Regions from separate parts of the Homo sapiens genome. Here region 2 is linked to region 1. The links come from fine-mapping of genetic effects on gene expression. Tissue or cell type: whole blood. Region 1 holds a variant in brackets; the other region holds the start of a gene. All regions are shown on one strand. Distances are between the middles of the regions.

The links.
Region 2: it holds the start of RGL1, and the variant in region 1 is fine-mapped to the expression of RGL1 in whole blood (TOPMed, PIP above 0.99).

The regions. Positions count from the first base shown.
Region 1 is chr1:183,886,608-183,889,525 of GRCh38, reverse strand. It overlaps RGL1 (ral guanine nucleotide dissociation stimulator like 1), which reads right to left. Exons shown (of 18, transcript NM_001297671.3): 8 at 949-1,052. Among named protein-coding and RNA genes, the nearest start is that of RGL1, 83 kb to the right of the region's middle. The variant G/A (reference allele first, on the strand shown) is at 1,224.
Region 2 is chr1:183,803,686-183,806,603 of GRCh38, reverse strand. RGL1 (ral guanine nucleotide dissociation stimulator like 1) reads right to left here and starts at 1,484. Exons shown (of 18, transcript NM_001297671.3): 1 at 1,280-1,484; 2 at 119-229. The coding sequence starts at 1,306.

The sequences.
Region 1 (2,918 bases):
GAGTAAACTTATGAAACTGAGGACCCAGACCTTCCATTCTGCCCCACTAAGGCAGCCTGGCTGGGAAGCCAGCTGGCATCCCTCTCCTCCTAACTGAAACTGACTATACCACATGTGGTATAGACCATACAGAATTTATAGATTCTTCCCTGATATAGCCTAACTTCCTGACTAGTTCAAACCTGGGCAAACTTGTTGAATGTAGCTGGCCTAGTTGTACTCATGACACAATCCCCAGCCTCTAAATCTGTAGTGACAGAGAATCAGAACTGCCCCCTCCCTCACCTTTCCTTCCTTTGCACAAAGTTCTTTGATCTACAGTGAAGTTCCGGAAATGGAAGTGATGGCAGTAGTGCAAAAATCAGGAAACCAAGTTGTTAATTATTCCAACGGTTGCACCAAGAAATATGAAGAAAAACAGCATAGGATGTGGCCAGTTAATAATTTCAGGTACTTAGGAAAGAACATTTAAAGGTTTTTAATGCCAATAAGATAGTTTTTAAAATGCTGAAACTAAAAGGACAACTAAATAGTTTCCTACTGAACATCAAGAACTAATGTCCTATCTGCACACATTACCCCTTGAGTCCTAAAATAGCTTAGGGCTTTGTAGTGAGGCTGAAAAATAACCAGAAGTAATGGCAAATTGCTGTAACTTCATCACTCCACAACCTTATCCCTCAAAATCCAGATAATAAGCACATCCTTCAAATCATCCCCAAAGCCAATAATCTTGGCTTTGGTATACTTAGAATGAGTTTGATTTCTGCAGGAGCCCTGCCTCAAAAGTCATTAATGATTATGTGTAAGATGCACCCTGCCTGAAACACACAGAGGATTTCAAATATGTTTCTCTAGTTATGCGATACAAGCTTTGAAGGTGAGGACTCATCACAACCACTAATTATCCCGGCCAAAGAAAAGCAGAGCAAACACTTGGGAACTTACCTTGGGACGGCAGCCCAAGTCTTTTTTAACCGATAGATGGAATTAGACTGCAGTGCCGAAACGATGGCCCTCAAGGAGGAAAAATTCTTCAGGAGTCTACATTCCTGCATGGGGAGTGATTAAAACATAAAAGGCATTTAACTATCAATATTACAATGACTTGGTGGTTTCCTGTTTTAGAGGTATCACAGCTGCTATGAATTCTTACCACAAAATAGGCAGCTGTATAAATAGTGAACATCAAAAAGTGGCTCCTTCCTCCCACCCCAGTCATC[G/A]AAACACTTTATAGATTTTGGCACAGTATGCTTGTTTTTCTCTCGTCAATATATTTTTTTGTGTTGTTGTTACAGTTTTATAGTTTCCAGCTTTCCTAGTAAAAACACTAATGGAGGTAAGTCTACAGAGCTATGCTAGAAAGAGCAACTTTCTTCTGCTGAAAGCACACAGATGTCCTAAAAATATGCACTTTAGATCTTCTTTAGATCCCAAAATGAGCTGGGCAGCAGCCACTTTGAGGTCAGATGGTATTGAACATCTCATCACCAACCCTTGTCCACAGAGGTGTATATAATTTGGCAATAAAAATTCACCACAAGTTGAACTTTGGCTTTTATGCTCTTAGCCAAGGGGGGATATTTTTATACACATTCATTTGGTTTCAAATTGGCTTGTCCTGCAACCATAAACATTCAAAAACACCTTGGTACTTCAATGCTTCCAAAATAACTCGGCCTTTTAAAATAAAATTCATTTTGGCAATGTTTTAAAACAAAATAGAAAGAGAACAGGAAACATTCTGGATGCCATTTTCTGGGTAAGGAGAGAGGCTCCCTATTTAAACTTAAGCTACCATAAGGAGCCTGTAGCATCAGCAGTTAGTGACCTTGGAGTCAAAGTCCTGTGACTGAATAGCAGGGACAGCAAAACAGACAGGGAGAAAGTCCCATTCTTGGCTGGCATGGGGAAGGTAGCAACGTGAGGAGACTGGACCAGGCCTTATGTCAAAGGAGATGCTTCATATACAGGCACATGACAGCGTACTAGGCCCAGTGTTTACAAGTGAGTACACCATGTGAGCACGTATTTGGTTTTGTGTAGAGTATCTCAGGTAAGAAGTCCCAGAGTGATTGGGCATAAATGTAAATCACTTCGAGAATCATTTCACAAAGAAATGTTAATCCTGAATACGAAGGAAAAACAGCACTCTAATTTAGCATGCCAAAATCTGGACACTGAAAACTATGCCAAACAAACCCTCAAACATTTTCTTTAGAGTAAATGCCAAAGTACTTAATAAAAGTCATGTCCACCCTTTTTAAATGCCTCAATGTCCTCCCCTTATTTGGAAAGATATAAAGAGAAAGAGAGAAGAAGGAGGGGAAGGAGGGAGGGAGGGAGGAAAAGAGGGAGGGAGGGAGGGGAAGAGAGAGAGAACAAGAGAAATGTTCTGAATTGCAATCTGGAAACTAAGCCTATGGGAGCATGGTTCAACAAAGGTTCACAAAAGTTATATTCTAAAAATCAGGAAACTTGCAATAAAAAAAGGAACTCAGGAACAGATACATCATGCAAATTGAAATAAACACATGGAACACATTATTCAAAAAGAGGTTTAAACTAAGGGTTTAAAGGAGTACAAAAGGCATCTGGTCCCATTTCTAGAAAAAGAGGCATCTTCCAGGAGATGTGATGCAAAAGTAAAAACATACCATTAAGGGCAGTCCAAGAAAATATAGTCATATTAGGTCAGAAAAATTTTCTTTTTCAAATATCCTTTCAATAGAAATTGACTACGATGAATGCAGGAAAGGTAAAATAAATCTTGGTAGCAAACCACTGGTAAGCCTCATTATTTTATTACATTTCCCTACACAATTGTAAAAGATACAACATACTCAGTATTAGGAAGTGATATCACCAAAAAAAAAGTAAGAGCCCTTGGCTTTATTAGCACATGATATGGGATTTGA
Region 2 (2,918 bases), 83 kb after region 1:
CCTTTTTAAAGCGAAAAGAGGAAAAAAAAAAAAGCCTGCCTCTGTTAAATAATAATGATATTCACAGAACGACAGACACTGAAATTCCAAAGTTCACCATCTCGCCAGCTTTACTCACCCCTAGCCATCTTGCTCCTTTATTGGCAGCCTGTTGAATCTGGACTCTTTTGAGGGTGACATGGTAAACAGCTCCTTCCTCTACCTCTTCACCCCAGTCCTGAATCGAGCTCTGCCAGGGACGGGATAAAGAGAAAGAAAAAGAGTATTTTTTTCCTCTCTGCTAACCACAATCTATCCCAGCTGCCTTGCTGCTTACAACAGCACTCAGGGCACAAGATGGGCTGTTCAAAATAAATATTACAATCCGCAATACAAGACACATTTTGATAGAGGGAATGCTGAGATTTTCTTGGCTTGCAGTCCCTTCCTGTGGTATCAGGATCCCCTGACTTTTCCATTTAGTTATTTCTCCTAGACTTGCTCACATATCTTAAATAGTTTTGTTTTGAAGTCTTTCTTTTTCTTTACAAAGAAACTAGATTAGTCCTGATTAACTTGTCCCCCTTAAGTGAAAGGAAAAATAATTCTTTGTAAAAAAAAAAAAAAAAAAAAAAAAAAAAAAAAAAAAAAAAGAAAAGAAAAGAAAAAGAAAAAGAAAAAAAGAAAAGAATAAGTCTGTACTTTTTAGAGTGGCTCGGTCATTGAAGAAACCAGATTTTAAACTCAGACACAAACAAGTGTTTAAAACGCCAAGAGTCCTCACTCCTTTGGAAGTGAAGTGGTTTGCTTGTCTTTTCTCCTCATTGTTTTGGAGCCCACAAAGTTAGCGGGGGTGGAAAGTTTTTATTTCCGTAAAATAATCTGGCAAGTGCAGAAAAAGCAACACATCATCAGGCAGCTTCTACTAAAATCTGTGCAGCGACCCCCTGGATTTCCATGTCCCCAGCTAAACCTGAGGTTTGTGTTAAAGAGCCGCTGGGACGCAGAAGCGCTCCGCGGTTCACCCACACTAACAGTTCTTTTTCCTTCAAAGTTCTCCCCTCCTGACATGCATCTGCCCCAGACACACCACAGGCAATTGCTGAGAAAGTAGGTACGGTTGAAAGGGAGAAGACACGCAGAGAGAGAGGAATACAAAGCGGAGTGAGAGAGCTTTAGCTCACAAGTATGGAATCGGATTGCTCCGTTCACTCCGAGGGAGTCCAAAACACGCCCAGCGAAAGCGGGAGAAGATTCCCCACCAGAGAAGCCTCGGGAGAAGGCAGAGAGCTCTCGTTACCATTTTAGCTTGCCAAAGCAATTTCATTCTCAGTTTTCTCTCCGGTGCGCGAACGCTGCATGATGCGCCCTGCTCGGAGGCCAACGCAATGTCTGCTGGGCTCAGCCCCGCGGCGCCTCGCCCCGGTCCCGGTCCCGAGCGACCGCAGCGCACAGACACGCGCCGCGCTGCCCCCGCCGCCGCCGGTGCGCGCGACTCGGGCCACAAAGGGAGCGCGGCGAGCGAGCGAGCAAGCGAGGAGCAGACTCCTCCCCACGCCACTCCGTGATGTAAGGCTTTCCTGTTTGTGCTTGTGAGCACACTCTCCCTTTCTTCAGTCCCATGGATAAAGTCAGCATGAAAGCGTTTCTCCAGTTCTGAAGGTGATTGGGAAACAACACTTTCAAGTTTATCAGGTTTTCCTGACGGTCACCAGGTGCCAAAATAGAACTGAGTGTGGGATGGAGGATTTGTGTGTGTCTTCTTCCTTCGCTAAAACAATGGAAGGAGAAAGTCCAAAAAACTTCCATTATCTGCCTATTATCTATTTTGATTTTAGAATAATTAAGTCAGAATGACCCCAGTGAGAGCCGCAATACTAGACGCCAGGAAGTTTTTCATTAGGACAGAGGATAAGGTCAGAGGACACCCGGGTATTCCAAAACCATGCCCAGGGGCTATACCCTCTCCTGCATCAGCACACTGCCAACAGGAAATCGCGCTGGGCTTTTCACCACCCCAATTACCCAGTAACTGGCCATTGGGGGTGGGAAGGGAACAAAGCAGGGTAAGGTTTTGCTAGGACTGACAGTGTCCTGGAGGTTCTGTGAGTCTTTGTGAGTAGCCACCATGGGTTGAGTTGCCTGTACTGTAGGGACACAGTAGGATCATAGCCACAGGGAAAAGTTCTTCATCAGATGACTACCAGCAGGAGTTTTATCATAATGGAAAGATCTGCTATAGGGATAAAAGATTATTACATTTTTTTAGATCCAGTTTTAACAAGTCAACAGCAAGAGATACCAGATAATGCAGTCAAACTTGACACCTGCCAGAATTCCATGCAAATTGCAAATACCTTTAGGGCTCATGTCTTTCATACTATTCACCCTAAATGAATTTAATCACCTTCAAATAAAAAAAAAAATAGGTCTCCCACTAATTGCCATACTATGACATAAGCCTGGGTTTTGGTTAATGGTAAATATATCATGAGCTGACAATTTAGCAAATCAAGTGTACTGATGTTCCCAGGAGAGCAGAATAAATGACAGCAAGGGCACATTAAGCAAAAACAAAAGGATCTGTGGACACTTGAGAACATCTACAAGTCATTCAGCCAGGTTATCCCCATACAACCAGAACCTAAGGGCACCATCACTGTATAGAGAGGAGATGCCCTTTTAGCAAGCTGAAGTGGTTGTTCTATAATTTAAAAAACAAACGAACGAAAAACACATAGACTAAATCCTTCTATGATGATCAGGGCAGAATGTTGCTGGGAACCAGAGGAAAATCATGTGAAGGCCCTACCTCCCTGCTTGTTAAGCCATCCTCAGGAACCCAGGCCCACCTCTAGAGGACCTATTAGGTGATCTTGGACACCACGAAATGCAACTGAGGACAGTTAAACAACCTGTAAGATTAACTTCACCACTAC